2 separate regions of the Homo sapiens genome follow, and region 2 is linked to region 1. The links come from fine-mapping of genetic effects on gene expression. Tissue or cell type: whole blood. Region 1 holds a variant in brackets; the other region holds the start of a gene. All regions are shown on one strand. Distances are from middle to middle. Region 1 overlaps EFHC1 (EF-hand domain containing 1). Region 2 holds the start of EFHC1 (EF-hand domain containing 1).

Evidence for each region. PIP is the estimated chance that this variant, and not a neighbour inherited with it, causes the effect.
Region 2: EFHC1 starts here. The variant in region 1 is fine-mapped to the expression of EFHC1 in whole blood (TOPMed, PIP above 0.99).

Annotation. Positions count from the first base shown.
Region 1 is chr6:52,441,619-52,457,847 of GRCh38, reverse strand. EFHC1 (EF-hand domain containing 1) reads right to left here. Exons shown (of 11, transcript NM_018100.4): 4 at 5,011-5,160; 5 at 3,561-3,753. Among named protein-coding and RNA genes, the nearest start is that of EFHC1, 29 kb to the right of the region's middle. The variant G/A (reference allele first, on the strand shown) is at 8,727.
Region 2 is chr6:52,411,750-52,427,978 of GRCh38, reverse strand. EFHC1 (EF-hand domain containing 1) reads right to left here and starts at 7,637. Exons shown (of 11, transcript NM_018100.4): 1 at 7,506-7,637; 2 at 3,812-4,033. The coding sequence starts at 7,568. It overlaps LOC124901331 (a long non-coding RNA gene), which reads left to right and starts at 6,998. Exons shown (of 2, transcript XR_007059611.1): 1 at 6,998-7,770; 2 at 9,531-10,079. RefSeq lists an enhancer at 7,077-7,668 and a silencer at 11,094-11,388.

The sequences.
Region 1 (16,229 bases):
CATTCAACTTTCTGGAACACTAAAGGTCTAAGGGGTGTTCAAGATTCATCTAACAGGCAAGGGCAAGATCAAACTATGAAAGCCAGTCTGAAGGATAACTAACATATTTAGACTTTCAGAACCTGGTTCCTTGGGTTCAAGAGCTGAGTAGAAAGCTTTTGTTAAGTCAAAAGATGTCCTGTTTTGATATTACCTGCCACCTATTGGTAATATGCAATTGCCCTTGACGAAGAAATAACTTTCTGAATTTCTGATATTTTAACTCCATCCATTATAAATATATAATTTTGATTTATCTTAGCTACTTAAAAGGAGGCCCTGGTTGAGAGGACTTCTGAAAGTTACTCCCATAATTTCCTATTACTGTCTAATACAAACTCTCTGCCTAGCCACCATCTCTTGGGCGCCCCCAAACATGCCATACTTGTTCCTAATTCCCAACTTTTGCTCTTGTTCTTCTTTCTAGTGAGCTCTTTGTTCTCTGCCATTCTAAATCTGAGTCTAATCCCAGCTCTTCCACAAAGACTTCTTTAGTTTTTCAGGCCCACACCTTTGTCCTTCTGACCTCGGTCTGCATGACTTAACTAATTACATAATCAGATAATCTGGTATACTCATGTTATTACTTAACAGCTTTGTGTATTTTATATGCCTTGTCTTCTTAATGACACTAGAAATGACTGAAAGATAGGATTCTAGGAATGGGAGTTACATTTTGTCCTCCATAGCATTTAGCATGTGAAATGGTTCCCATAGCAGATTATTTACCTCTTGTTTAATTGAATTTAATAAAAATCACCCATTGGATAAATGCCTTTGAGAGTCAATTAGACATCATTCTTTTAACACTACCCTTCTAGTTAAAGGAATTATGTAGCTGATGGGAACATAGCCTTTTCTGTACCTCATGACTGATACCTTTTTTCTTTTTTTGAGATGGAGTCTTGCTCTGTTGCCCAGGCTGGAGTGAAGTGGCGCAATCTCCGCTCACTGCAGCCTCTGTCTCCTGGCTTCAAGCAATTCTCCTGCCTCAGCCTCCTAAGTAGCTGGGACTACAGGCACCTGCCACCATGCCCAGGTAATTTTTGTATTTTTTAGTAGAGAGGGGGTTTCACCATGTTGGCCAGACTGGTCTCGAACTCCTGACTTCAGGTGATCCTCCCACCTTGGCCTCCCAAAGTGACGGGATTATAGGCTTCGGCCACAGCGACCAGCCTGTTTCCTACTTTTTAAAAGAACCCTATATATGCCACCAGGCTGCCTCTCCATGCAACTTTGATAAAAAATTTTTAATTGGGAAATTATAGAAGAGGATAATTATATATTAAGTTTTCAATATAGGTCACATTGATAAAGCAGAGACAAACCTGGAATCTGTCATTTAAAGGGATTTAGTTTCAGTGAGACTTTTCATGCCACCCTGAATATATTCCTATCCATTTTCTTTATCTATTGTAAATCTAATGTTTGTTAGCTCCGAACTGCATGGATTTCAGGCTTGTTTAAGCATTCTGAAAGGCCAAAATTACTATATTAGTCCCATTGTCATTGAACTCTAAGACGGTTCTGTAGAGAACTGATTATAAGAATATGTATAGTAGGTAGAAGCCAAACTATGTTGAACTAGGGCACAGATCCAGTTGTTTCTATTTGAGAATACAAGCTGAATTAGCAGTATTTTCATTTTTTTAAAAAAATATATAACATAAACTTTCCTAATTCTAAAATGATGACAATTTTCACTCCCTTTTATCCTTTTCCCCAATCTCATTCTCCTCTCCTCACATGCAATCATTCTAATGCAGCTATGTGACTGAATGTGTCCTACGTGTACTATGTTTTGCATGTGTTATAGCATTATATATCTAATTTCATGTATTTTTTCCTACACAGCACTATGTTTTTAAGATCCATCCACTTGCTTTCTGTGTACATCTTGTTTACTGCTTCTAACTACTGTATATTAATCAAAATGTACCTTCACTACATTTTTGCTTATCCATTCTCTCAATGATGGAAACCTCCAACTCCTTGCCCACAAATAATACTGCATTTTTCATAAAAAAGCACTGTGCAAGTGAAGCAATATGTACAGACACGTTGAATTTAGCCTCAGACTACACATTTATTTATAACCTCTAATGTAGACAAACTTCTTGCTCAATACCTGAAATTTCTTTTTCTTTTTTTTTTTGAGATGGAGTCTCACTCTGTCACCCAGGCTGGAGTGCAGTGGCACGATCTTGGCTCGCCACAACCTCCACCTCCCGGGTTCAAACAATTCTCCTGCCTCAGCCTCCTGAGTAGCTGGGACTACAGGTGCACGCCACCACGCCCAGCTAATTTTTTGTATTTTTAGTAGAGATGGGGTTTCACCATGTTAGCTAGAATGGTCTCGATCTCCTGACTTCATGATCCACCTGCCTTGGCCTCCCAAAGTGCTGGGATTACAGGTGTGAGCCACCGTGCCCAGCCCCAATACCTGAAATTTCTTATATCCTAATTCCCAAAAAATATAGTAAAAAGAAAAAAAAATCAGTGAACACATTTACAGAATCCTGTCAGCCACCCAAACATAAGAGCTATCAGTCATTACATGTGACCAAGATGACATTATTCTAAGAGAAATGTAAAAACTACTAAGACAATAACTAAAGCAAGCCTACTCATCCCAGGAAACAGTGAACAGCAGGTATTTGCTGCCATTTTGTTGCACTGCCACTCTCAAATATGGTAGGTAACTTTTTTTCTTTTTCTGGAGATAGGATCTCACTGTTGCCCAGGCTGGAGTGCAGCACCACAATCACAGCTCACCGCAGCCTCGACCTCCCAGGCTCAGATGATCCTCCCACCTCAGCCTCCCAAGTAGCTGGGAATACAGGTGTGCGGCACCAAGCATGGCTAATTTTTGTATTTTTTGTAGAGAGGAGGTTTCATCACGTTGCCCAGGCTGGTCTCAAACTCTTGGGCTCAAGCAATCCACCCGCCTCAGTCTCCCAAAGTGCTGGGATTACAGGAGTGAGCCATCATGCCCAGCCCATGCTAGGTAATTTTAAACCAGTAAAGAATGAGCTGGGTTTGACACAATGGACCTCACCTCTATGAGTCACAGACATGCCTTTTCCAATCTCAAGTTAAACCACATAGAAACTTCCTGTTTAGGAAGTAGTTGAAGTGAGAAGCAAAGTCAGGAAAGCATATAAAGAAAAGCTAAGCTTTCATTCATATCCTTGAATGAAAACAAGCCTGTTTGAAAAATGCATTAAAAATCTAATATTAAATTGTTTCAGTTCAGAAACCTTGCTCTGCTGCACTTTAAATAAATCTCCCACTGTTGTTTTGGTTTTGTTTCCTTGACCTGGGTACCAGACTGTCTTGGGGGCACGCCTGGACCGAGGGGCAAGTAAAGGAGGAAAGCTGTGGGAAGCCATTTTCTGAGCATCTAAGCAAAAATAGCTAGAGGCTTCCAAGTATAAACGAATTTTGCATACTGATTAAGTAACTCCTTTAAGAACCTAAAAACATCCCAAGTAACAGAGAATAAACTGAATCAAACATACTTGCATTTTCCACCAAAACTTTGGGCACACGCTGGCGGTTCATTAGGAGTGGGAAAGGATCTCTCCCATCATTCCGTTCGTGGACCTCTCGAATTTCCACCGTATCATCCATAAGATAGTAATGAATGATGTAGGTCCGACATTCACCATACATGCTGTCTGTATCATCCCAGATTGCATAGAATCGAAGGACCTTTGAAGAATCCAAAGTAGTGACTCAAGAATCCTAAAAGTAGGGAGTTCAACTTGGCTACTTTGGCAATTATGTATCAACGATGGAAAGACTAGCTGGAAAGACTATGAAGTAATTTCAGATGGGGTAAATTGAAAAAAAAAGAAATATTCATCAAACATACTAAAACATCTGAAATTATGTACTATATGTCAGCAGCTGGAAAGAATTAAATAATAGGATTATAAGTTTGTGCCAAAAAAGAAGAGCTCACTTTGATCCAAAATATTAGTCAGTGAAAGAGAAGCTAAATTAAAAGAGCAATGAAGTTCTTTACATAGTGGTATATATATATTAATAAAGGTACATGTGAATATGGTTTATATATAATTAGTGTAGAAAAAATTTTTATTTATTAACCAGTCTTTTTTTGGTCCCATCAACACATATCTTCTAGCAATAATATAAACACAATCTTTTTTTTTTTTTTTTTGGCTAGGCTTCTTCAAATCGTGGGAATAAACACAATCTTTAAATACAAAATAATAACAGATATATGACTGATATGAACAAAATCCTTAAAAGACCATGCTAGTGCTAGTTTACATTTTCTGAACTAAAAGGGGTTAAATGTCTAAAGAAAAGGAGCAGCAAAGAAGCACTGAGGGTGATCTCTTCCTTTTCTTTCTCCCTTTAGTACAGAAAGGGAAGGATTTAAATCTGCTTATACACATCAGCTCACAAGGGAGAGGATTAGGAAGGTTGGAACAGAGTTGGAAAATGCTCAGAACATTCTGGACTCCAATATTAATATAACATTTAACAAGGAAGCATCTGTAGTGGGGCTTCTGTGAAATTAAACATTTTAACATTACAACCTACATGTATGCATATTTGTGAAATTTCCTAATAATCGATTTATGGTTTCACAAAGGAGTCTATGAAATTAGCTCATTTTAAGGGAAAGAAATTGTCAATTGGAAACGTAAGGTGGGAAGCAGATGTAGCTCAGGAATTGCTTTGAGATTTAAATGTTTGGTGAGGTTCACAAAACAACTCCGCAACTCCACGATCTTCTTTGGATCTCCATATGAAATGTAGGCATTCCTGTACCTGTAACCCTTGATGAAAGCAGAAAGACAGTACTGTGTCCAAACAGTTCAATTATAGCTGTAATGTTTCAAAATAGTTACCAATACAGCTACCCAAACCTTTTGCCAATAAATGTAGGTCACATTTGGAAATAAGTAAGCCTATTGTGGTTCCTATGTCACTTACCTGTTTGTCAAAGGTGAGAAATTGCTTGAGTTGATCAAAGTCTGATGGGGTGACATACTTACGAAGAGGCTGTTTTCGGAGTTCAGTGTAAGGATCAAGAGCCATCTTCTCTGGTGGATTTAACTCAATTCCTTGGCTTTCTAAAAATACCTAAATAATTGAAAGTTAACAATGATCATCTTTCTTGGAGCTTTTCAGAGTAAGTTATAAACTGATTATATAAAAATAAGTGTATGGGCCAGGCACTGTGGCTCAGGCCTACAATCTCAGCACTTTGGGAGGCTGAGGTAGGAGGACTCCTGAAACGCAGGAGTTCACAATCAGCCTGAGCAACATAGTGAGACCCTGTTTCTACAAAAACATTTAAAAGTTAGACTGGTTTGATGGCATTTGCCTGCAGTCCAGGCTACTCAGGAGGCTGAAGTGAGTAGACTGCTTGAGCTCAGGAGGTCAAGGCTGCAGTGAGCCATGATCATGACACTGCACTCCAGCCTGCGTCACAGCAAGACCCCGCCTCAAATAAAGAAAAAAAGAAAGAAAAAGTGTAATAATGATTTCTATGCCATTGCTTAAGTTAAACATTAGTTTGCTGCTTGAGCGCATGTAAGCTGTATTAAGTCTCCAACTGAGCCAACTCCATAATGCAGGTAATAATTGAGAGTTACCTGAAGTATTTTATATTGTTATATTGCTAGGTATTTGCTAAGCTAGTTGGGAGGCACAATGGCAAAATAACTGTTTTCAAATAATTTAAATCAATCAAATTTAGTTAGGTGCCTGTAACAGAGTAAGTCTTAGGATTGCTTACTTTCATATATCTGGAACCTAACCATGGTTTCAAACAATATGTAATTCCTATTAGGTCTGGAGGCAAGATGCACAATGGCCAAGTTAGGCTGAAATCATATTCCCAATTTTCTAATTCACTTAAAACAAATACTGTATATGATTAAGTCCCTTCCCCTCACCAAAAAAGAAAAAAAAGAAAGCATACCCACTGGTTATATTAGACCAGAAAACGTGTTAGCAAAATAGGAAAGACAAACCAAGTGCTCAAATTTCACCAGACATTCCTGAAAGGGACAGTGAGAAAGCAAACAACTTGGAAAACATATTTCAGGATATTGTCCACAAAAACCTCCTCAACCTCGCTAGAGAGGCCAACAATCAAATTAAGGAAATACAAAGAATCCCTGCAAGATTCTATGCAAGGAGATCATCCCCAAGCCACATAATCATCAGATTTTCCAAGGTCAAAATGAAAGAAAGAATGTTAAAAGCAGCTACAGAGAAAGGGCAGGTCACGTACAAAGGGAACCCCATCAGGCTAACACTGGACTTCTCAGCTGAAACCCTATAAGCCAGAAGAGATTGGGGGCCTATATTCAACATTCTTAAAGAAGAAAAATCTTCAACCAAGAATTTCATATCTAGCCAAACTAAGCTTCTTAGCAAAGGAGAAATAAGATCCTTTTCTGATAAGCAAATGCTGACAGAGTTCATTACCACCAGACCTGCCTTACAAGAGATCTTAAAAGGAGCACTAAATATGGAAAGAAAAGGCCATTACCAGCCAATACAAAACACACAAGTACACAGACCAGTGACACTATAAAGCAACCACACAAACAAACCAGCATAATAACCAGCTAACAACACAATGACAGGATCAAATCTACACATATCAACACTAATCTTAATTATAAATGGGCTAAAGGCCCCATTTAAAAGGCACAGAGGCCAGGCATGGTGGCTCATGCCTGTAATCCCAGTACTTTGGGAGGCAGAGGTGGGTGGATCACTTGAGGTCAGGAGTTTAGGACCAGCCTGGCCAACATGGTGAAACCCAGTCTCTGCTAAAAAATACAAAAATTAGCCAGGCATGGTGGTACACACCTGTAATCCCAGCTACTCGGGAGGCTGAGGCAGGAGAATCACTTGAGCCTGGGAGGCAGAGTTTGCAGTGAGCTGAGAGCACGCCACTGCACGCCAACCTGGGTGACAAAGTGAGATTCTGTCTCAAAAACAAACAAACAAAACAAACAAACAAACAAAAAAACCACAATGCAGAATAACAAGCTAGATAAAAAAGGAAGACCCAATGGTATGCTGTCTTCAAGAGACCTATCTCACACGCAATGACACCCAAAGGTTCAAAATAAAGGGATAGAAGAAAATCTACCAAGCAGATGGAAAATAGAAAAAAGCAGGGGTTGCAGTCCTAATTTCAGACAAAACAGACTTTAAACCACCAAAGATCAAAAAAGACAAAGAAGGGCACTGTATAATGGTAAAGGATCCAACTCAACAAAAAAAACTAACTATGCTAAATACATATGCACCCAATACAGGAACACCCAGATTCATAAAGCAAGTTCTTAGATATCTACAATGAGACTTGGACTCCCATACAACAGCAGTGGGAGACTTTAAAACTTCCCTGACAGTATTAAACAGATCATTGAGGCAGAAAATTAACAAAGATATTCAGGACCTAACTCAACATTGGACCAAATGGATGTGACCTACCTCTACAGAACCTTCCACCCAAAAACAACAGAGTATACGTTATTCTCATCACCACATGGCACATATTCTAAAATCGACCACATAATCAAACAGAAAACAATTCTCAGGAAATGCAAAAGAACCAAAATCATAGCAAACACACTCCCAGATGACAGCATAATAAAAATAGAAGTCAAAACTAAAAAAACCACTCAAAACCATGCAATTACATGGACATTAAACAACCTGCTCCTGAATGACTTTTGGGTAAATAATGAAATTAAGGCAGAAATCAAGAATTTCTTTGAAAGTAATGGAACAAAGATATGACATACCAGAATCTCTGGGACACAGCTAAGGCAGTATTAAGACGGAAATTTATAGCACTAAATGCCGATGTCAAAAAGTTACATCTCAAATTAACAACCTAATATCACAACTGAAAGAACTACAGAAGCAAGAGCAAATCAACCTCAAAGCTAGCAGAAGACAAGGAATAACCAAAATCAGAGCTGAACTGAAGGAAATCAAGACACAAAAAACCATTCAAAAGATCAATGAATCCAGGAGTTGGTTTTTATTAAAAAGATAGGCCACTAGCTAGACTAATGTAGAAGAGAGAAGATCTAAATAAACACAATTAGAAACAACAAAGGGGATGTTACCACTGACCCCACAGAATTATAAGCAACCATCAGAGAATATTATGAACACTTGTATGCACAACACTAGAAAACCTAGAAGAGATGGATAAATTCCTGGACACATACACTCACCCAAGACTGAACTAGGAAGAAACTGATTCCCTGAACAGACTGATAACAAGCTCTGAAAATGAATCAGTAATCAATAGCCTATGAACCAAAAAAGGCCCAGGGCCAGAGGGATTCACAGCTGAATTCTATCAGATATACAAAGAAGAGCTGGTACTATTTTTTTTTTTTTTTTTGAGATGGAGTCTTGCTCTGTCGCCCAGACTGGAGTGCAGTGGCACAATCTCGGCTCATTGCAAGCTCTGTCTCCTGGGTTCACGCCATTCTCCTGCCTCAGCCCCGAGTAGCTGGGACTACAGGCGCCTGCCACCACGCCTGGCTAATTTTTTGTATTTTTAGTAGAGATGGGGTTTCACTGTGTTAGCCAGGATGGTCTCGATCTCCCGACCTCATGATCCACCCGCCTCAGCCTCCCAAAGTGCTGGGATTACAGGC[G/A]TGAGCCACCGCACCCAGCCAAGAGCTGGTACTGTTCCTACAGAAAATATTCCAAAAAGTTGAGGAGGAGGGATTCCTCCCTAACTCATTCTATGAGGCCAGCATCATTCTGATACCAAAACCTGGCAGAGACACAACAGAAAAAGAAAACTTCAGGCCAATATATTTGATGAACATCAATGCAAATATCCTCAACAAAATATCTGCAAACTGAATCCAGAAGCACATCAAAAAGGTAATCCACCACAATCAAGTAGGCTTCATTTCCAGCATGCAAAGTTGGTTCAACATACACAAATCAATAAATGTGATTCATCACATAAACAAAACTAGAGACAGAAACCACATAATTATCTCAATAGCTATATAAAAGACTTTGGGTAAAATTCAATATCCCTTAATGAGAAAAACTCTCAATAAACTAGGTAGGAGAGGTTCCAGGATGGCCGAACAGGAACAGCTCCAGTCTGAAGCTCCCAGCATGAGCAACGCAGAAGACGGGTGATTTCTGCATTACCAACTGAGGTACTGGGTTCATCTCACTGGGGTTTGTCAGACAGTGGGTGCAGCCCACGGAGCAGGGCAGGGCATTGCCTCATCTGGGAAGCACAAGGGGTCGGGGAATTCCCTTTCCTAGCAAAGGGAAGCTGTGACAGACAGTATCTGGAAAAACAGGACACTCCCACCCTAATACTGCACTTTTCCAATGGCCTTAGCAAATGGCACACCAGGAGATTATATCCCGCACCTGGCTCAGAGGGTCCCACACCCACAGAGCCTCTCTCACTGCTAGCACAGCAGCGTGAGATTGAACTGCAAGGCGGCAGCGAGGCTGGTGGAGGGGCATCCGCCATTGCTGAGGCTTGAGCAGCTAAACAAAGCAGCTGGGAAGCTCGAACTGGGTGGAGCCCATGGCACCTCAAGGAGGCCTGCCTGCCTCTGTAGACTCCACCTCTGAGGGCAGGGCATAGCTGAACAAAAGGCAGCAGAAACTTCTGCAGACTTAAACGTCCCTGTCTGACAGCTTTGAAGAGAGTAGTGGTTCTCCCAGCACGAAGTTTGAGATCTGAGAACGGACAGACTGCCTCCTCAAGTGGGTCCCTGACCCCCAAGTAGCCTAACTGGGAGACACCTCCCAGTAGGGGCCAACTGACACCTCATACAGCCAGGTGCCCCTCTGAGACGAAGCTTCCAGAGGAAGGATCAGGCAGCAACATCTGCTGTTCAGCAATATTCACTGTTCTGCAGCCTCCACTGGTGATACCCAGGCAAACAGGGTCTGAAGTGGACCTCCAGCAGACTCCAACAGACCTGCAGCTGAGGGTCCTGACTGTTAGAAGGAAAACTAACAAACAGAAAGGACATCCACACCAAAAACCTATCTGTACGTCACCATCATCAAAGACCAAAGGTAGATAAAACCACAAACATGGGGAGAAACCAGAGCAGAAAAGCTAAAAATTCTAAAAATCAGAGTGCCTCTTCTCCTCCAAAGGAACGCAGCTCCTCGCCAGCAATGGAACAAAGCTGGATGCAGAATGACTTTGATGAATTGAGAGAAAAAGGCTTCAGACAATCAGTAATAACAAACTTCTCCGAGCTAAAGGAGGATGTTCGAACCCATCGCAAAGAAGCTAAAAACCTTGAAAAAAAGATTAGACGAATGGCTAACTAGAATAAACAGTGTAGAAAAGTCCTTACATGACCTGATGGAGCTGAAAACCATGGCATGAGAACTATGTGATGCATGCATAAGCTTCAGTAGCCGATTAGATCAAGTGGAAGAAAGGGTATCAGTGATTGAAGATCAAATGAATGAAATGAAGTGAGAAGAGAAGTTTAGAGAAAAAAGAGTAAAAAGAAATGAACAAAGCCTCCAAGAAATATGGAACTATGTGAAAAGACCAAATCTACGTCTGACTGGTGTACCTGAAAGTGATGGGGAGAATGTAACCAAGTTGGAAAACATTCTGCAGGATATTATCCAAGAGAACTTCCCCAAACTAGTGAGGCAGGCTAACATTCAAATTCAGGAAATACAGAGAATGCCACAAAGATACTCCTTGAGAAGAGCAACTCCAAGGCACATAATTGTCAGATTCACCAAAGTTGAAATGAAGGAAAAAAATGTTAAGGGCAGCCAGAGAGAAAGTTCGGGTTACCCACAAAGTGAAGCCATTCAGACCAACAGCGGATCTCTCGGCAGAAACTCTACAAGCCAGAAGAGAGTGGGGGCCAATAATCAACATTCTTAAAGAAAAGAATTTTCAATCCAGAATTTCATATCCAGCCAAACTAAGCTTCATAAGTGAAGGAGAAATAAAATCCTTTATAGACAAACAAATGCTGACAGATTTTGTCACCACCAGGCCTGCCCTAAAAGAACTCCTGAAGGAAGCACTAAACATGGAAAGGAACAACCGGTACCAGCCACTGCAAAAACATGCCAAATTGTAAAAACCATCAATGCTAGGAAGAAACTGCATCAACTAATGAGCAAAATAACCATCTAACATCATAATGACAGGATCAAATTCACACTTAACAATATTAACCTTAAATGTAAATGAACTAAATGCTCCAATTAAAAGACACAGACTGGCAAATTGGATAAAGACTCAAGACCCATCAGTGTGCTGTATTCAGGAGACCCATCTGACGTGCAGAGACACACACAGGCTCAAAATAAAGGGATGGCAGAAGATCTACCAAGCAAATGGAAAACAAAAAAAAGCAGGGGTTGCAATCCTAGTCTCTGATAAAACAGACTTTAAACCAAGAAAGATCAAAAGAGACAAAGAATGTCGTTACATAATGGTAAAGGGATCAATTCAACAAGAAGAACTAACTATCCTAAATATATATGCACCCAATACAGGAGCACCCAGATTCATAAAGCAAGTCCTTAGTGACATACAAAGAGACTTAGACTCCCATACAATAATAATGGGAGACTTTAACACCCCACTGTCAACATTAGACAGATCAACAAGACAGAAAGTTAATAAGGATAACCAGGAATTTAACTCAGCTCTGCCCCAAGCAGACCTAATAGACATCTACAGAACTCTCCACCCCAAATCAACAGAATATACATTCTTCTCAGCACCACATCGCACTTATTCCAAAATTGACCACATAGTTGGAAGTAAAGCACTCCTCAGCAAATGTAAAAGAACAGAAATTATATAAAACTGTCTCTCAGACCACAGTGCAATCAAACTAGAACTCAGGATTAAGAAACTCACTCAAAACCACTCAACTACATGGAAATTGAACAACCTGCTCCTGAATGACTACTGGGTACATGACAAAATGAAGGCAGAAATAAAGATGTTCTTTGAAACCAATGAGAACAAAGACACAACATACCAGAATCTCTGGGACACATTTAAAGCAGTGTGTAGAAGGAAATTTATAGCACTAAATGCCCACAAGAGAAAGCAGGTAAGATCTAAAATTGACACCCTAACATCACAATTAAAAGAACCAGAGAAGCAAGAGCAAACACATTCAAAAGCTAGCAGAAGGCAAGAAATAACTAAGAACAGAGCAGAACTGAAGGAGATAGAGACACAAAAAACCCTTCAAAAAATCAATGAATCCCAATGAGATCACATGGACACAGGAAGGGGAACATCACACTCTGGGGACTGCTGCGGGGTAGGGGGAGGGGGGAGGGACAGCATTGGGAGATATACCTAATGCTAGACGACAAGTTAGTGGGTGCAGCACACTAGCATGGCACATGTATACGTATGTAACTAACCTGCACAATGTGCACATGTACCCTAAAACTTAAAGTATAATAATAAAAAAATAAATAAATTAATTAATTAAAAAACCAAAAAAAAAAATCAATGAATCCAGGAGCTGGTTTTTTGAAAAGATCAACAAAACTGATAGACCGCTAGCAAGACTAATAAAGAAGAAAAGAGAGAAGAATCAAATAGATGCAATAAAAAATGATAAAGGGGATATCACCATCGATCCCACAGAAATACAACCTACCATCAGAAAATACTATAAACACCTCTACACCAAAAAAAAAAAAAACTGGAAAATCTAGAGGAAATGGATAAATTCCTGGACACACACACCCTCCCAACACTAAACTGGGAAGAAGTTGAATCCCTGAATAGACCAATAACAGGTTCTGAAATTGAGGCAATAATTAATAGCCTACCAACCAAAAACAGTCCAGGACCAGACAGATTCACACCCGAATTCTACCAGAGGTACAAAGAGGAGCTAGTACCATTCTTTCTGAAACTATTCCAATCAATAGAAAAAGAGGGAATCCTCCCTAATTCATTTTATGAGGCCAACATCATCCTGATACCAAAACCTGGCAGAGACACAACAAAAAAAGAGAATTTTAGACCAATATCCCTGATAAACATCGATGCAAAAATCCTCCATAAAATACTGGCAAACCGAATCCAGCAGCACATCAAAAAGCCTATCCACCACGATCAAGTTGGCTTCCTCCCTTGGATGCAAGGCTGGTTCAACATACACGAATCAATAAATGGAATCCATCATATAAACGGAACCAAAGACAAAAACCACGTGATTATCTCAATAGATGCAGAAAAGGCCTTTGACAAAATTCAACAGTCCTTCATGCTAAAACCTCTCAATAAACTAGGTATTGATGGGACATATCTCAAAATAATAAGAGCTATTTATGACAAACCCACAGCCAATATCATACTGAATGGGCAAAAACTGGAAGCATTCCCTTTGAAAACTGGCACAAGACAGGGATGCCCTCTCTCACCACTCCTATTCAACAGAGTGTTGGAAGTTCTGGCCAGGGCAATCAGGCAAGAGAAAGAAATAAAGGGTATTCAATTAGGAAAAGAGGAAGTCAAATTGTTCCTGTTTGCAGATGACATGATTGTATATTTAGAAAACCCTATCCTCTCAGCCCAAAATCTCCTTAAGCTGATAAGCAACTTCAGCAAAGTCTCAGGATACAAAATCAATGTGCGAAAATCACAAGCATTCTTATACACCAATAACAGACAAACAGAGAGCCAAATCATGAGTGAACTCCCATTCACAATTGCTTCAAAGAGAATAAAATGCCTAGGAATCCAACTTACAAGGGACATGAAGGACCTCTTCAAGGAGAACTACAAACCACTGCTCAATGAAATAAAAGAGGACACAAACAAATGGAAGAACATTCCATACTCATGGGTAGGAAGAATCAATATTGTGAAAATGGCCATACTGCACAAGGTAATTTATAGACTCAATGCCATCCCCATCAAGCTACCAATGACTTTCTTCACAGAATTGGAAAAAATTACTTTAAAGTTCATATGGAACCAAAAAAGAGTCTGCATTGCCAAGACAATCCTAAGCCAAAAGAACAAAGCTGGAGGCATCACGCTACCTGACTTCAAACTATAGTACAAGGCTACAGTAACCAAAACAACATGGTACTGGTACCAAAACAGAGATATAGACCAATGGAACAGAACAGAGCCCTCGGAAATAATACCACACATCTACAACCATCTGATCTTTGACAAACCTGAGAAAAACAAGCAATGGGGAAAGGATTCCCTATTTAATAAATGGTGCTGGGAAAACTGGCTAGCCATATGTAGAAAGCTGAAACTGGATCCCTTCCTTACACCTTATACAAAAATTAATTCAAGATGGATTAAAGACTTAAATGTTAGACCTAAAACCATAAACACCCTAGAAGAAAACCTAGGTAATACCATTCAGGACATAGGCATGGGCAAGGACTTCATGACTAAAACACCAAAAGCAATGGCAACAAAAGCCAAAATTGACCAATGGGATGTAATTAAACTAAAGAGCTTCTGCACAGCAAAATAAACTACCATCTGAGTGAACAGGCAACCTACAGAATGGGAGAAAATTTTTACAATCTACCCATCTGACAAAGGGCTAATATCCAGAATCTACAAAGAACTTAAACAAATTTACAAGAAAAAATAAAACAACCCCATCAAAAAGTGGGCGAAGGATATGAACAGACACTTCTCAAAAGAAGACATTTATGCAGCCAACAGATACGTGAAAAAATGCTCATCATCACTGGCCATCAGAGAAATGCAAATCAAAACCACACATCTCATGCCAGTTAGCATGGAGATCATTAAAAAGTCAGGAAACAACAGGTGCTGGAGAGGATGTGGAGAAATAGGAATGCTTTTACACTGTTGGTGGGAATGTAAACTAATTCAACCATTGTGGAAGACAGTGTGGTGATTCCTCAAGGATCCAGAACAAGAAATACCATATGACCCAGCCATCCCATTACTGGGCATATACCCAAAGGATTATAAATCATGCTGCTATAAAGTCACATGCACACATATGTTTATTGCGGCACTATTCACAATAGCAAAGACTTGGAACCAACCCAAATGTCCAACAATGATAGACTGGATTAAGAAAATGTGGCACATATACACCATGGAATACTATGCAGCCATAAAAAATGATGAGCTCATGTCCTTTGTAGGGACATGGATGAAGCTGGAAACCATCATTCTGAGCAAACTATCGCAAGGACAGAAAACCAAACACTGCATATTCTCACTCATAGGTGGGAATTGAACAATGAGAACACTTGGACACAGGGTGGGGAACATCACATACTGGGGCCTGTCATAGGGTGGGGGGTGTGGGGAGGGATACCACTAGGAGATATACCTAATTGAATGACAAATTAATGGGTACAGCACACCAACATGGCACATGTATACATATGCAACAAACCTGCACGTTGTGCGCATGTACCCCATAACTTAAAGTATAATAATAAAATAAATAAATAAATAAACTAGGTATTAAAGGAACACACCTCAAAATAATCAGAGCCATCTATGAAAAACCCACAGCCAACATTATATTGAACAGGGAAAAGCTGGAAGCATTCCTCTTGAAAACTGACACAAGAAAAGGATGCCCTCTTCCACAACTTCTATCCAAGACAATATTGGAAGTCTTGGCCAGAACAATCAGTCAAGAGAAAGAAATGAAGGACATCCAAGTAGGAAGAGAGAAAGTCAAACTATCCCTGTTTGGAGAAAACATGATTCTATATCTAGAAAACTCCAGAGCCTCATCCCAAAAACTCCTTAAGTTAATAAACAACTTCGGCAAAATTTTAGGACACAAAATCAACATACAAAAATCACTAGCACTCCTATACACCAACAACAGCCAAGCTGAGAGTAAAATCAGGAACACAATCCCATTTACAACTGTCACAAAAAGAATAAGATACCTAGGAATACAGCTAACCAGGGAGATGAAAGATCTCTACAATGAGAATTACAAAACACTGCTTAAGGAAATCAGAGATAACACAAGCAAATGAAAAAACATTACATGCTCATGGATACGAAAAATCAATATCTTTACAGTCACCATACTGCCCAAAGCAATGTACAGATTCAATGCTATTCCTATCAAATTGCCAGTGACACTCTTCACAGAACTAGAAAA
Region 2 (16,229 bases), 30 kb after region 1:
ATGTTAGCTGGTAGGAGACCCAGAATTAGAATCCAGGTCTTCTAACTCCCAGGAAGTGCTCAGAATGCCACAATAAACATAAAAATATTTGTATTTACTTCAAGATGAAGGGGGGAAATGCTGCATAAATATTTTCATATCACACACAATTATAAAAAGCCAAGTCACATTTTTAATTTTACATTATTATAAGCATATATGGTACGTGTTTGACTTGCCAATTTTCAGCAGTGACACAGACAAGAAATAAATTTTGTTAATTATTCATGTCATTTTAGAACTGATATTTATTGAGCACTAAATATATAATAAACTATATAAGTCCTTACCTTCATGAAGTATACACTCAGGTGGGACAGATAAACACTAAACAAATCAGCAACACAAATTATAATATAGTGCTGCAAAGGGGAAAAAAAAAAAAGAGAGGGAAGTGATATAGAAAAATGAGGAGGAACTGCCATAGCAGAGTGGCCAGGAAAAGCCTCACTGAAAGGAAAGATGGAGTCAGCCACTTAAGGATGGTGGGGAAGCTATTTCAGATAGGAGAAATGCCATGTACAAAAAGGCCCTGAATTGGAATTTTCAAATGCTGCCATTTCAAGGAAATCAGTAAAAATAAATCCAATGTATTGAAACATGATAGGTGAGAAAAAGGACCCAAGATGAGGCTGGGGAGAGAGCAGGGAGGGCCAGCTCCAGTAGGGCTGTGAGGAACCTGTAGAGTTGGATCTTTATAGATGATAGGGAAGCCATGGAAGTGTTTCAGTCAGTATGTGACATAATCTGATTTTCAAAAAATAAGCCTGGCTGCTCTGTGGAAAATAAATTTATGGTAATAGTGAGGATGAAAATAAGTAAATGAATTAGTTACATATTTTAGAAGCAGAAACAATAGAACTTGCTAATAGATTAGATGTGGATTGTGAGGGGAAAGAAGAATGAAAGATGACTTTCATGTCACAGTGAGGTGAATGGTGGTAATGTTTACTGTATTGGTTAAGAAAGCCTGATGGCATTTTCCCAGAAAAATGACATAATCAGAGCTGAACTCTAGAGAATAAACAAGGCAGCATACCTGTTATAAGCATAAGGACTAGGAATGAGACTAAAACAACAGTTAGGTAGTCATTTGGCTTGTCTGAACTATGATAGTGGCAGAGGAAATGAAAGTGAGAGATATTTGACTTGGCAACTCATTAAGTGTGGAGGATAAAGGAGAGAAAAAGCCAAAGATGGCTCAGGTTTCAAGCTTGGATTACCTAGTGGAACCACACAGGGAAAGCAGATCTATGGGAAAAGGTGAGGGATAGAGATAAGTTAGAGACATACAGAACTTGAGGTACCAACAGTTCATCCAGGTGAAGATATCCCATGGGCCAGGGGGATACAGATCTGGAGTCTCAATGATGTCAGAGTTGGAACTAAATAGTGACATTCTCTACGGTGAGGTGACGGTTGAAATCACGAAAGTGGGTGAGATCTCAAGAAAATTATATAAAGAATGAGATAGAGCCTTGAAAATACTTGTAAGTTAAGAATTGAAAAGAGGAAGGGAGGCTAAAGAATAAGCAACCACATAGAAAGAAGGAGGAAAATGAGAGTCATGGAGGCAAAAGAAGAGCACAGTTTCAAGAAGGGAGGAAGGGTCAACAGTGTCAGATGGCATAAACAAGCCAAAGACAATGCTGGCAAAGTAAACCTCTCTAGATCTGGTAAAAGGACAGCACTGGCTACCTAGGAGAAAGTATTCTGGGGCTGTGGGTAGGGAGAAGTCAGATTGTAAGTGATTTGACAGTCAAGTGAGAAACAAAGTTATCTTGCTTAAAGGCATCACAAGGTATTATAGAAAGAGGACAGGATGATATGACTCTAGCTAGAGAAGCAGTCACTAGAGTGTCTGAAATAGAAATAATATGAAACTTGAAGATGAAAAAGATGAAAGAAGAACATCAGAAATAAAGAGCTGGAAGTCAGTCTGGGAAACACAATATAGTAGGTGATGCTGGAATTATACAGGAGCAAGGGGAAAAGATGAGGGCACTTGGAATAGATGTCCTGGTCTTTATTACCTAAGTAAGAAATGAAGTTATATTCTGTCTATGAGGAACAGTCCTAAGAATTTCCAAAATATAGACAAATATGTTGGCTATTATGTGGACCTCTGGGTATTAGAGGTCCTTCATTTAAAATTAGAACCTTCATTTAATTCAGAGAAACCATAATTCCCTTATTATAAACAAACAAACTTAGTTTCAAAGTCATGCATTTAGCTTCTCTCTACCCCATTATCTATGCTAAGGCTCATTTATCTAGAAATTGTGATGATCCAAGTAAAATGAATTGGAAAATAAAAATAATATTTTTATGTGCACTATCCTTAAAGAAATGAATTATGAATATTAAATAAGTACAAATTAAGTAACAACAATTAGTGTAAAATAACATAGAAAACAAAAAATAGGAAGCCTATTTCCTACTCAAGCGCAATTTCTCCTCTGAATTTTACTAATACTTTCTTACGACATATATCACTTTATCACCTTCTACTTTATAACAGTTACTTACTATTCTTTTCAGTAAAAATTAAACATACCAGGATTCATATCTTGGTAATTATTTAGTGCCTATCCCACTTCTCTCTTGTATTTTCAGCCCTCTCCCTTCTCTGCTGATTTTGCAATGTCTGTCAAAGCCACAAATAAACAAAAGAAACAAGCAAAAGGAAAAGATACATCCAATTATATAAATCATACTGTTTAGTGGATGTTTAGGTTCGGCCTATGAATGCATATGTGAATGTGTCCCTATAAATGAGTTAAGTGGGGAAGAGGAAATGATACAGATTCTAGTTGAGAGACTGAAATTGTTTAAAAATAAGTGACTATCATGTAAATGGCATAGCTCCTCCCCAGCCTCTAGCTTACAACAGGTACTCAATAAAAGTTGGCTGGCTGGATGAAAATGTTATAGACATTTAACAGGAATAATAAAATAAAAATTAAGACAAGAAAAGAAACAGACTAAGAGTAAATTAAGAAAGCTAACTTATCAAAACTGATCAGTACTTCTCAGAACCAGTTACACATAAAGCTCATCTGGAAATTAGAACTGATGAGGGTTGGAATAACGTAACTTTCTTAAAAATCTCGCCAGTGATTCTGCTACATGGTCAGGGCTAGGGCTACTTCACTTTAGTGAAAAGAGGAGGCTCATTGACAAGGAAAAACAAGAATGATGTGGTAATGTCAATAGATGGAAATGAGGAAACTCACATTGCAAAAACATAAAGATAAATGAGAAACAAACAAAAATGTTATACCACCCATTGGTTATGTAATATCAAACATGAAATGTTCCCTGAAAACCAAAAACTTATGGAGACTGCCTTGCAGAAAACTGACAATAGATGGAGTCATTGTTTTCATAATGATATTCTGCATCTCATGAAGATTAGATATGTCACCATTACAGAATACAGTTACCTTTAAAAAGTGGAGAACACACGGCTGATAAACATAGAATATAAATTCAAGAATTCAGAATTATAGCCAACTTTTCTTTAACTGCATTTGGAAAATAGTCTGGTGAAGTCTACAGGGAACTACTTTACTCCCTGTAATCAGCTTCCTGACTAAAGAAAGCCTCTTTTTAGCCTGAGTTCAGCTGTCCATGACTAAGGGTTAAGGCATCTGAACAATTTTCTCCTCAGAGCCCTTTGGAAATTCTGTGGTTTACTGTTTTAACTTTTTTGCAAGCAGTTGGCTCTCAGACCCTAATTCAAGGGGTACCCTAAAATTCCAGATGATACCTTTTTGTCAAAGGCCACATGCGCAGGAATAAAATCCGCAGGTGGGGCTTGTTTAGGTTGGCCATAAGTTAAGACTGGTGCCTTACTGGCCAACTCATCCAGCTCAGCCTGGGACAGCTGGTTGAACTGGAGCCGGTCTCCGCCTATCCCAACTGTTGGACGTCGAACAATTGCATAGCCGTTCCTGTAGCTCAGCGTCTGACTTCTGTGGAAGGCTGTTTTCTGAAGAAGAAAAGAATGTGTCATTAATAACATTAGACAAATATTTGTTAGGTAAAAAAAAAACTAACTTTTAAAAATATAACTTGAATCTTTGCTTATAAGCATCACAAAACTTACATCAAGAAGCTTACCAACATTAAGGCTGGGCATGGTGGCTCGTGCCTATAATCCCAGAACTCTGGGAGGCTGAAGAGGGAGAATCACTTCAGCCCCAGAGTTCGAGACCAGCCTGGGCAACAAGATGCTGTCTCTACAAAAACTAAAAAAAAAAAAAAAAAAAAAAAAAAATTAGCTGGGTGTGGTGGCTTGTGCCTATTATAGTCGGCTGAGGTGGAAGGATCACTTGAGCCTGGGAGGTCCAAGCTGCAATAAGCTATGATTGAACCACTGCACTCCAGCCTGGGCAACAGTGAGACTCTGTCTCAAAAAAACAAAACAAAACAAAAGCTTACCTACATTAAAAGATTCTGTATTTTAAGTTAAAACACTTGAACAAGAACAAGGAGCGAAGTAGCCACCTAAGCTTAAAGTAAAATTTAAAGCTGTGCTCTGTAATGCCCAATTTAACTACCAATTCACCTTGCATGAGAGATTAAAAGAGTATCTCATCTATACTCTTAAGTTTTTCACTAGTCTTCTCATGTTTTTCATCTGATATCTGGGGCCGTAAAAACTGTAGAACCTAGAAGATACGGTTCTGTGAATTTTATTTTTACATGGAATGAATTTATTTTTACCTGTCCCTCTTGTCACAATGACAGTGATACATTCTTACAACTCTTTGGAAAGCAACTGGATGGTATATATTTAAAGTCTTGAACTCAATAATTCTACCCCGACCATTTATTTACGAATATGATTCAGAATTATGAGAAAGAACTATATGCCTGAAGCTGCCCATTACAATGGTAAATGTTGAAGACAATCTAAAAGACAGTCATATGAAGACATGAGTAAATGATCGAAAACTCACTCAATGGATTATGGTGCTGTCATTAAAATATTGATTTTAGAGATCACGTGGCAACCTGGTGAAAATATTTATGATTTAATAAGCCTGAAAAAGCAACATATAAAATTATATGTGTACTGCAATTATAAGCATGGAAATATGTGCATGAAGAGACTGGTTTGGTCCTCTGTATTATACATTTCTAAATTATGTTGATTTTTTACAATGAACACATTTTTATTTAAAAGATTAAATAAAAAAGAGTAGAAAGGCAAATTAGAGGTTATGTTAATGGTTTCCTTTTTCTGTTGTGAGGATACTTTCACAATTACTTATCTATAATATTCAAATATATACATAGATACAATTTAAGATTAATCATAAAAAATATTTTTATGAAAAAAACTTTCTACATCCTAATTGCTTTAGAGCCCAGCCTACCATCTTTCAAGATCTGTACTAACATGAAAGGTACAACAGAATAAACTTCTTTTGCTAAAAGGGTTATAAACTGTATATAACCCATAAAAACAAATGTATGACATTTGTTTTTAAAGGTCATGTATTCAGAGTCACAAGTCAGTTGACAGGGACTGCTCCAGGTATATAGTAAACATGACATAGAACAAAATGCGCTGAGTTGACATCCTCATTGGGTAATTTATGGAACTTCAAGCTCTTCTTCCACCACCAAAGACAGAAGCAACATCAGTGACTTCAGTTTATTTCTTTGTTTTAGACAAATGTCTCTACCATCATTCAGCCATAACTCACAGACACCCCAGGCAAGGCAACCTCGGCCCTTTCCACCCCTCTTGTCCATTATGGTTCACCTTCTGTGTGTCTTTTTTTAAAATCGTTTTCCCACTCCCCTTTAAAAATTTTTTAACTTCTTATCTGCATGTCTTTAGAATTACATTAATACATATTCAGTCCTTCACTGCTGAAGATATACTGACGATGCTTTTCAAATTTCAAATAGGGCAAATTGGTTGACACTTGGCCAGTGTATTTAAAATCTGAAATATGTCCAATGCACAGTTCTTCTTACTTGTAATACAGCAATATGTTTTTAGAGCTTTGCACTTCCATCCACACCTCTGTAATTCCCTGTATCAACTCAGCCCTGTCTATACTCACCAACACCAAAAGCTTAAGCTCATCCTGTATAGGGCAGGCAAGTGCCTACAACATTTTCTAAATTACATAAAACTGAAAAGTCCACTGAAACTAAAAATCTATGATGTTGTGTCTTAATGCAGGGATAATTACAGAGATTCAGAATACAAATTCTCTCACCAAACTTTCGATTTCATTCTAAATTGATTCTTCCAAAGAAAATAAATTGACAAAATATTTTAACTTTGTGAAGCTGGAGAGGAAGGCAAGAGTTTAAAGTATTAAACTATATAAACATAAACTACTGTTAGCTCATCTATGATGATCAGTCTACTGAATCTCATTATTGATTTTTCAGCACATACATTTCAGTAGCCCTGTCAGAATTAAAACAAACCAAATAATTTTAAGAGCTAAACTGTGGCAAGAGTTTAAAAAAAAAAAAGAATCCAAGCTGCTGCTACTTTTTAAAAAATTTTGTCTAGAAAATGCAAATAAAAACACAAGGTTGGGGAAGGAGCAAAACAAAATCTAAACAGGAATCTTTTTACAAAAACGTTAGAATAAAAAGAACAGGGCCGGGGAAGAATAAACAGCAACTAATCAATTCTTGAGGGAACTGGAAAGGAATATCTCTTACAAAGCAGGGAAAGATGCTTTGGGAGGAAGGTGAGCAAGTTTTGGGGAAAACCCGCAACGGAGAAAGAAAGGAATGGGGAGAGGATGGGACTAAATTGTGGAAAATGTAGAAGATGGAGAAAAAAGAATGGGGTTGGATGCAAGCATAAAGAAGAAAGGAAAAAGACCTGGCGGAAAGAAGAGGAGCGGAATCGATATACATACAAAACAGGAAATGGAGCTGGGAGTGGGAGATACTACCGGGTACAGGATTCAGAAGAGGAAGAGGTGGGGCGGGAATGACGGACCTGTGGGAATGAGGTTGAAGGTGCATAGTGGCGGGGGGTTTTAAGGGCGGCGATGGACGGAGACAGGTTATGATGTGAGAGAACGAGCTAGGGAGAGGGCCCAGAGATAGGTTGGGAGTAGGGTGGGGGAAACAGTGATCTAAAGGGACAAGAGGCAGGGGCTTGGAGGAGCAGGGCCGTAAGAAAGAACGCGGCTAACGGGATGAGAATGAAGGCGCCAACACACTGCCAAGATGGAGTGGGAAAAAACTAGAGAGGGATGAGGCGGAGGGCAAAGGATCGGAGAGAGGGGATGAGGATGGCTAGGGAAGAACGGCAGAAGTTCGGCCCAGAATAAAGAACAGGGTCAGGACAGAAGACGTGTTTGGAGAGAAGACAGACTTGAGTGGAGGGGAATGGAGGTGCACTGAGCGGGGAAACCTCCTGGGCTGCTGGAAGGTGGGGACAGGTGGGAGTCTGGCAGATAACTGCTCACCGTAGAGTCCTTAAAGGACGTGCCCGGAAGAAAGGGCAAGCCATGCACGGGATTGGACACCATTGCAGCCGGTACCACCGCCGCCACCTAGGTCCTGCTTCGTCCTCTCCGGTTGCCCAGGCGACAAGCAGTGTTCGCGGGCACCTCCAGGATCCATGGTAACGCTAAACATCCGGAACTCCCACGAGCGGAAGGCGGGGCCAGGAGGCGCAGGCATCACAGGAGGTTTGCGCGTGCGCCATCCGCAGGACTCCGCGTTCTCGCGGTAAGTGGGCCGCGGCCTTGGAGCGCGGCTAGTGGGCGTGGTTGTGTCGGCCCCTCCTCTTCCGCTTCGCCCCGCCCCGCTCCCGGAGGATGAGACGTGGGAGCTGTTGGGTGGCGCGGGGAAAGGCGGGTGTAGCGAGGCGGTAGTTCTCGCTGTGAGATCCGGGGTCCGAGCAGGCCCTTAGATGAGTTGCAGAGAGGGACGTTCCTTCTCTCCTTCCACCTAGTCCTGGCGGACCTCACTGCGCCCCGCCAACGCTGTGAGCTCAGGCACTCTTTTCTCCCCCCTCTGCCCCATTTCACACAGAAGTGTAAATGGTCGGTCCAGTTGGCAGTGCTACTAAACTAGACCCATGCTTCTTGTAGGCAGGGGCCGAGGATTACCCATGATTGTGTTTCTGTTGCTCAGGGATGGTCAATGAACTAATGCAATCATCTCATCCTTAATTCTCCCACTGCCACATTGTATTTTTCCCCTTTTAACTCTTTTTTAAAATCAATCTTTCTCTTTCTTTCTTTCCTTTCTTTCTTTCCTTTCTTTTCTTTTTCCTTCCTTCCTTCCCTCCTTCCCTCCGTCCCTCCTTCCCTCCTTGCTTCCTTCCTTCCTTCCCTACTTCCCTCCTTCCGTAGAGATAGTGTCCCACTATGTTGCCCAAGCTGGTCTCGAATTCCTGGGGTCAAGCGATCCGCCCACCTCGCCTCCCAAAGTGCTGGGATTACAGGCATGAGCCACCGCGCCCAGCTCTCTTTATTCTACCATCAATCCCTTCGGTTAAACACCTTTGTTTTTGTAGGGAAAGCCTTGAATATGTGCTGCAGGGCAGGGTGCACTCTGATAGGTACTTGATTTTTGTTGACTGAAGAGCTGCAGGTTGAAGGGTGGTCACCTCAATCCCTCGTTTGTACCTGCAGCTGCAATGAAAAAGATCAGAACCACTAGGAGGAACACAGCTCCTTCAAAGAGAAAGACTAAGTCTTGGGAAAGAAGCAGATAAGTGAGGTGAAATATTGTCAGCATCATAGGTATAGCCTTTGATGCTTTTTACAAAACTTGCTTAAATTATTTTTTCTTAAAAGAAACATAATCCTATTCCTGAAACATTTTTTTTGGGGGGGGGGGGAGAAAGCTATCCATCATTGCTGAGGAGCTTAAAAATAAAAAGTAATCAAAACCCACGTGCCGAGAGATTTGGATTCATTAGGTCTGACATGGAGGCCAGGAATCTGATTTTTGTAACAGGCGTTTGTGACAAGCCAGTTTAGGAACATGATAGAGTAATAAGCCAGACACAGAAGGCATATCTCAGTGTCACAGGTAGTTTACTGCCAATACAGACAGCAGCTTTACTTTTATTGCTGCTTGTCAGAGCAAATCCCCCTGTTGGGTTTCACTAATTTGTGTGACGCTCAGGAGGCCCAGGACATGAATGCATTAAGTGGCACCTGAGGCAGTTATTGATGCCTGCTTACCATACCCTGCCCAGAGAGTTTCCTTTCTAACTCTTCTCCCCTTACTACATCTGTTTCCTGTTCTTGTCCTTTTTTAAACCTCTTTTTCTTTTTCTGTAAGTACATTACCTTAATGCAGCAGTTTAATACATTTTTTAAAAACTTCAATGAAGTTTTTTTGCCTTTGGTGCTTTTTACAAAACTTGCTTATTTTTTAAAAAAATAAATGTAATCATATTCCTCAAACATTGGTTAGCATTGTGGAAGTTACTGAAAACTTTTAAAGTACCTGTCCGTTGTATTATACCTTAGACACCAACTGAGGATGGATGCCAGTCACTGGAGGAATATGTCAAGATGGCAAGTTTGCTGGGTGCGGTGGCTCACGCCTGTAATCCCAGCACTTTGGGAGGCCGAGGCGGGTGGATCGCCTGAGGTCAGAGTTTGAGACCAGCCTGGACAACATAGTGAAACCCCACCTCTACTAAAAATACAAAATTAGCTGGGCATGGGGGCGCATGCCTGTAATCCCAGCTACTTGGGAGGCTGAGGCACGAGAATCGCTTGAACCCGGGAGGTAGAGGTTGCAGTGAGCCGAGATCGCGCCATTGCACTCCAGCCTGGGCAACAAGAGCAAAACTCCGTCTCAAAAAAAGGAAAAAAAAAAAAAAAGATGGCAAGTTTAACCTTTCAAAGATAAGGCACCTCTCCCACTTCTCTCCACCTCATTGACGCTGATTACCCAGAATCACTGGTTACTGTAATTTTTGCTGACTCTTCATGATAACCTTAAACTGTTAGAAGTTCCATGATCCCTCCCTACCCACTCTCTTATTAAAAGTAAATTTCATGGCATTAGGACACACTTTGAAGAGCTCTTCTTGACTAAGTGCATGGTTGCACTTGGATCTATATTCCTGGGTTGGGTAGGGAAGGAGCGTGTGGAGCTGGAAAGGCTGAGTCATGCCTAAGCCTATTGTCCATTATCGCATCTGTTTCTATTTGAGGAGTGCCCTCTGCTCATGCCTTTCTTTCCAGAAAAGCACGCCAGTTAAATGGCTAAGGGGTGTGTTTTAACTACTTTCGGACCCCAGAAATGCATGAAGACAACTTCTGTTGGTCTATGGCCTCCTAAAAATGCTATCATCTCTGAGGAGGGGAAGTCAGACGTACTGCATTAGTGTTAAAAGGCACAGGGACAAGTCTGTAAAGAAGTGGGGCGGGAGGAAAGGCAGGGCTTCAGAAAGGTACCTGGATCCTCAGAAGGTCTGCTGTGATTAAGAGTTTGTATCCCAGTCGGGTGCAGTGGCTCATGCCCGTAACCCCAGCACTTTGGGAGGCCAAGGTGGGCAAATCACTTGAGGCCAAGATTTTGAGACCAGCCTGGCGAAACCCCATCTCTACTAAAAATACAAAAATTAGCTGGACGTGGTGGCACATGCCTGTAGTCCCAGCTACTCAGGAGGCTGAGGCAGGAGAATCGCTTGAACCGGGGAGGCAGAGGTTGCAGTGAACAGAGATCATGCCACTGCACTCCAGTCTACATGACCACTTAGCATGCATTGCACTTCAGTTTGTACCCACCATTTCCCACTTAGTGGAATATATAAAAGAGGGCAGGAAACTGACCATTCCTGGCAGCTAAAGTAGGAAATGCCATGATTGAAAGGCCATTGCATAAAGCCTGACTCAGAAGACCACAGAAATATTGCATGATTTTAGCAGGTGTTCCAAAACTTGGGGAATGGAAAAAAATTGAAAGGTCAGACTGCCAGGAGCCAAGCCTGAAAGAGGGCCTTGTGGGCTGGGTAATGTCTTCCAGGCAATCCTGATGGGACAGGCCATAAGCAGTCAGCTAAAATAAACCTCTCCTCTTTCAGCATTTTGCCCAGAGCTGACTTTACCCAGAATTTGTTTTCAAAACTGTGACATTCTCATTCTATAATACCTAAATTCACAGGACAAAAAATACCAAAGGGCTGTGTGTGCATGTGTCCTGGATTACTTCTGCAGTGATTTGGTGTTCTGCTTCCCTCTGCTGGGTAAAAATGGTACAGCAAAATTTCTGGAAAAGAAAACAACCAATTACATACCTGCAGGTTTTGCAGGTACTTGGGGGTGTGGTGAGCACGTGAATATGGCCAGGGGGTGTCCCTCAGTCAGAGTGCTCTCTAGCATTCCTTTCCATCACTCCATGGCCTCTGAAATATTTTATCTAAAAAGAGGGCCCAGTCATCCACTTCGATCTTTGCAAAGTATGGGAAAAGGAGAAACATCCAGTGATTAGATTTAGGATCCACAGGAGATCTTCATTTGACACAAAAATTACATCATTTGGGTCTAGACTATTTTAGTCTTGATGTGGGCTCCTGCCTGGGGTTTGGAAAAACCTGTATTTCTGCTGCTTTTTCCTCCCTTAAGTCAAACCTATTCAATAGCTTTAGCTGATTCCGTTGGAATTCTCTTTCCTTGTCAAAGCTGATGGAACATACTTCACAGGATATAAGCGTCATAAGAAGATGGTCTTCATTTTTTCATTGCCATTTTCCTAACTCTCATCACAGTGCCTAGCACTACATAGATGTCCATTAAATAGTTGGAAAATTACTGACCTACTACAGTTAATGAATGAATGACTCAGCGGTCACGTGGGAAAGTATTTTTCAAACTGCTGCAGATTTCCTTTAGCAGTTCTTCAAATCAACTTAATAGGTTGTGACCACAACGAGAATTATTTTTAAAAAAGAATAGAATAGAAACTATCCAGATGCATTCCATTTTGTTTGTAAGAATAATTCAGTGAAAGTTTTTTCAAGATATATACATACATATACATTCATAGTGAGAGTATATCATGATCACAGTCAAAATGCTTGAAAAGTAATTGACACAGTCCGGTTAGCTCATTTTACTAATGAGAAATCTCCAGACCAAAAGAGATCAAGGAACTATCAATTAATGACTGGTTCCCAATTGAGTATTTCTTACACTCCACCTCAATCCTCTGACATCTAGGAAAGACAGTCCTCATTTAGCTCAGGACAGATCATTGATCTTGGCATCCTGCTTGTGAGACATCTCTGGCATAATAAAGCTCTCAATAGTACGGAGAAAGAGAAGTGTGAGAATGTTGTGGTAGTAACATTGACTAGAGTTTTAGATTCCAAATGTGGACAAGAAGTGAATTCATTAATTCAGGTAAATGGCAACTTTGAAACAATAGGGAAATTGACACCTTCTATTGAGCATCTCAAACCACTTTCCTTTTCCCCTTTCACATATGCAGCATGAAACAGAAAGTAGAACAGGTTAGGTCCTGAGAGCCACATTCCTGTCCTGTTAAGAATATTTGTGTGAGTTTGGACAATTTACCTATCCAAGTCTCCTGCTTTTCATCTCTAAAATGAAAAGCCAGGACCAGAGCTAATGACCATTAATTGTTTGAGGGTCATGGGATCATTTTTAAAATCTTGTAAAAGCTTTAGACTTTGGTTCCCTAAAATGCACACATTCACATGTACTTATAATTTCATGTAGTTCATGAAAGCTCCAGTGAGTCTAGAAATCACTTCATTGAGTTTTCCCCTCTTTAAAATCTATGGAATGAAAAGTCTACAATATAGTACCCCAAAGGCAGAATGATGTAGCGGTAAAGTGAGTGGACTGTAGGAAACTCTCCAGGACAAATGATTGTTTGGCCAACAACTGAATTGGAAAGGAGTAAAAAGACTGGGGTAGAAGGGAAACCTATAAATTAGAAAGAGATTTAAGTAAAAAGTCAACCAATTGCAATGTGTGGGTCCTATTGGGATCCTGATTTAAACTAAATACTTTGAAATAATTATCACATTTGTGAGACCATTGGGAATTCAAACACAGGATATTTGATGGTAAGGAATTGTTCTTCAGTTTTTTAGACATGATAATGATATTGTATTCTTGTGTAAAGAGTCTTCATCTTTTAAGGATACATAAAAAGCATGTATTGTAGGAAAAATTATATAACATCTATAAAATTATAGATATTATATAATATCTTATATAATATATGAGATAGTATATATTATATAATTATATAATGTCCAAAATAATATGGACAGAAGCAAGTGAGTAGGGATGTAGATGAAACTAGATTCCCCATGATTTGATAATTGTGTATGTGATTACATGGGAATTCATCATACAATTCTATCTACTTTTGTATATGCTCAAGGTTTTTCGTAATAAAAAAATAAAAATAAAATATTATGGACTGCAGAGTCAGACTGCAGAGTTGCAAATCCTACCACTTACCAGCTCTGTGACCCTGCAGAAGTTTCTTAACCTTTTAATAGCCATAAACAGGAATAATAATTGTTATTCCCAATTCACAAGGTTGTTGTGAGCATTAAATGAGTTCATATATGTTAGCACTTACTGTAGTGCCTGGCACATAGTAAGCGCTCACTGACTGTTTGCTATTACCATTGTCTGGGGGAGCATGGTGAATGGACAGTTTGGTCAGTGACTGGGAATTGGAAAAACTATGGAAAATTAAAGACAGATTAAGGTAAAAAGAAAGGAGAAAAGGGGGGTAGGGAAATATGTTGGGCACTTTAGAGAATGCAACATGTAGAAGGGTTTGGTTTGTGTGAGTTAAGTCTTTCTTTCCTTTTTACCCACCCCCCACCTACCAACTCTGAATAAATATCACACACACACACACACACACACATACACATACACACACACACACACACACACACACACCCAGATCCTTTTAGACACACACACACACACACCCAGATCCTTTTAGAGGGTAGGAGGGCATCTAATCTCTTTTCAACGTAGAGTTTATGAAAAGAGCACAACAGCTTTCTGGTGGGCCACAGAGGAGGCTAGATGGCTGGAGCTTTCCGTGGAGCCATGGTCTTTTCCCTATTTGTTTGGTTTACTATTTTTTTTATCACCACTAGAATGCGAGGCAGACGGTGAATATAAAACCTTTGCACCCAAAGATGAAGGTGCTTGCAGGTAGATGAGTTGGTTGTGAGTACCAAGAGTAGAGGCAAAGACCCAGGTGGGAAGTTGCCAAGGTGCAACCCAGGAGCACCTGCTTACACAGGGTAGACTCAGATGGGAAACACAGCCACACTGAAACTGGCTGTTCACAACATTTTCTCTGTACTTAACTCCCTACCACAGAGGTTCTATTGTATTCACACACATGATAAGCTTCCCATCTGTATCTCTGCTGAGATCTGCAAATCCCATTTCTCCCTTTAATAGGGTATAGATGGGGGGGAAGGGAGGGGTCTTCGTGTCCCATTCTCTACCTGTGCTTGCTGAGTTGAGAGACCAAGAGCCACTGGTTAGAAAAAACTGTCAATTTCATAGGGAGGTTAAAACTGAGGTTGGCCCTGCGATGCTGTATTAAGTTTTCTAGGGTCATCGTAACAAAGTACCACAAGCTGGGTGGCTTAAAAAGAATTTTTTTTCTGTCACAGTTCTGAAGGCTAGAAGTCTGAAATCAGGGTGCTGGCAAGGCCATTCTCTCTCTCTGCCTGCCCCGCCACCCTAACCCACACACCCCATCCCCCAGTTTCTGCTTATTACCAGAAATCCTTGGCACTCTTTAGCTTGCAGATACATAACTCCCATCTCTGCCTACATTGTCACATGATGCTGTCCCCTGTGTGTGTCTATGTGTCTTCACATGGCTGTCTTTCCTCTGTGTCTTCTCCTCTTCTTATATGGACACCAGTCATATTGAATTAAGAGATTGTCCAGTATGACCTCATCTTAACTGCTTACATGTACAACTACCCTGTCTCCAAATAAGGTCACTAATTGAGGCAGCGGGGTTTAGGACTTCAATATATCTAAGGGACACAAACACATAATAGATGGGAATCAAAAGGTAGAAAAAATGAGTATGTGGACCAGTAGGGTTTCTTCTGTAGTCTGAGAACACTTGGGGACCATAGTGAGAAAGGGCGGTGCTGCCAGAATGTCTGGGTGGTGTGTGTGTGTACCAATGGAAGGTTCTTCCTGATGCCTGAGAGAGTCTTTGATCATGCAGACTGAATGTCAGGGAAGGAATGTGGAGGAAAGCAAGAAATCCCCCATTTCCCAGGGAAGATGAACTACATCTTATTCCGTTGTGGGTGGAGAAAAATCCCTCCCAAGGACAGAGAGCTCCTGTTCTGGTGAGAGACGTCTGGGAGCCCTTGGAGAGTGTGGATGAATTTGTGCAGAACTCACAACACCCTGCTCAGCGTGAAGTGATAGAAATAATGACTGTGGGCCAGGTGCGGTGGCTCACACCTGTAATCTCGGCACTTTGAGAGGCTGAGGCGGGCGAATCACCTGAGGGTGGGAGTTCGAGACCAGCCTGACCAACATGGAGAAACCTGGTCTCTACTAAAAATACAAAATTAGCGGGGCGTGGTGGCACATGCCTGTAATCCCAGCTACTAGGGAGGCTGAGGCAGAATCGCCTGAACCTGGGAGCTAAAGGTTGTGGTGAGCTGAGATTGCGCCACTGGACTCCACCCTGGGCAACAAGAGCAAAACTCCATCTCAAAAAAAAAAAATAGAAAAAGAAATAATGACTGTGTGATTACCACTAGCACTTTCCGAACACAAACTTTGTGCCGGGTACTGTGTGCAAAGGTATTTTTCCTGGAGCAAAATTAGTCAGATTCCAAGATAATTTGTTCTTGTTTAGAAAAGAGAAAACACTAGATGGAGATATTTTGCATGTTGCCATTGCTGTCTTTAAGAAATTTGTTTAGCCTGGAATCATGCTCAAATTTATTTTAATGAGGAATAAGATATATTAAAAGGTCCTAAAGATGAGAAAGTATTCACTAGAGTCATTTTATAAACATTAGAGAAGCATGCAAAAATAATTTGAAGTCAGTGGTTCTTAAAGTGAGTTTCTGTCCTTCAGATCCTTCAGGTCATTACAGAGGGCTTCTGAGATTGTAATGTGAGTAGCGCCATGTTGTATTCTAGCACAAAATACAC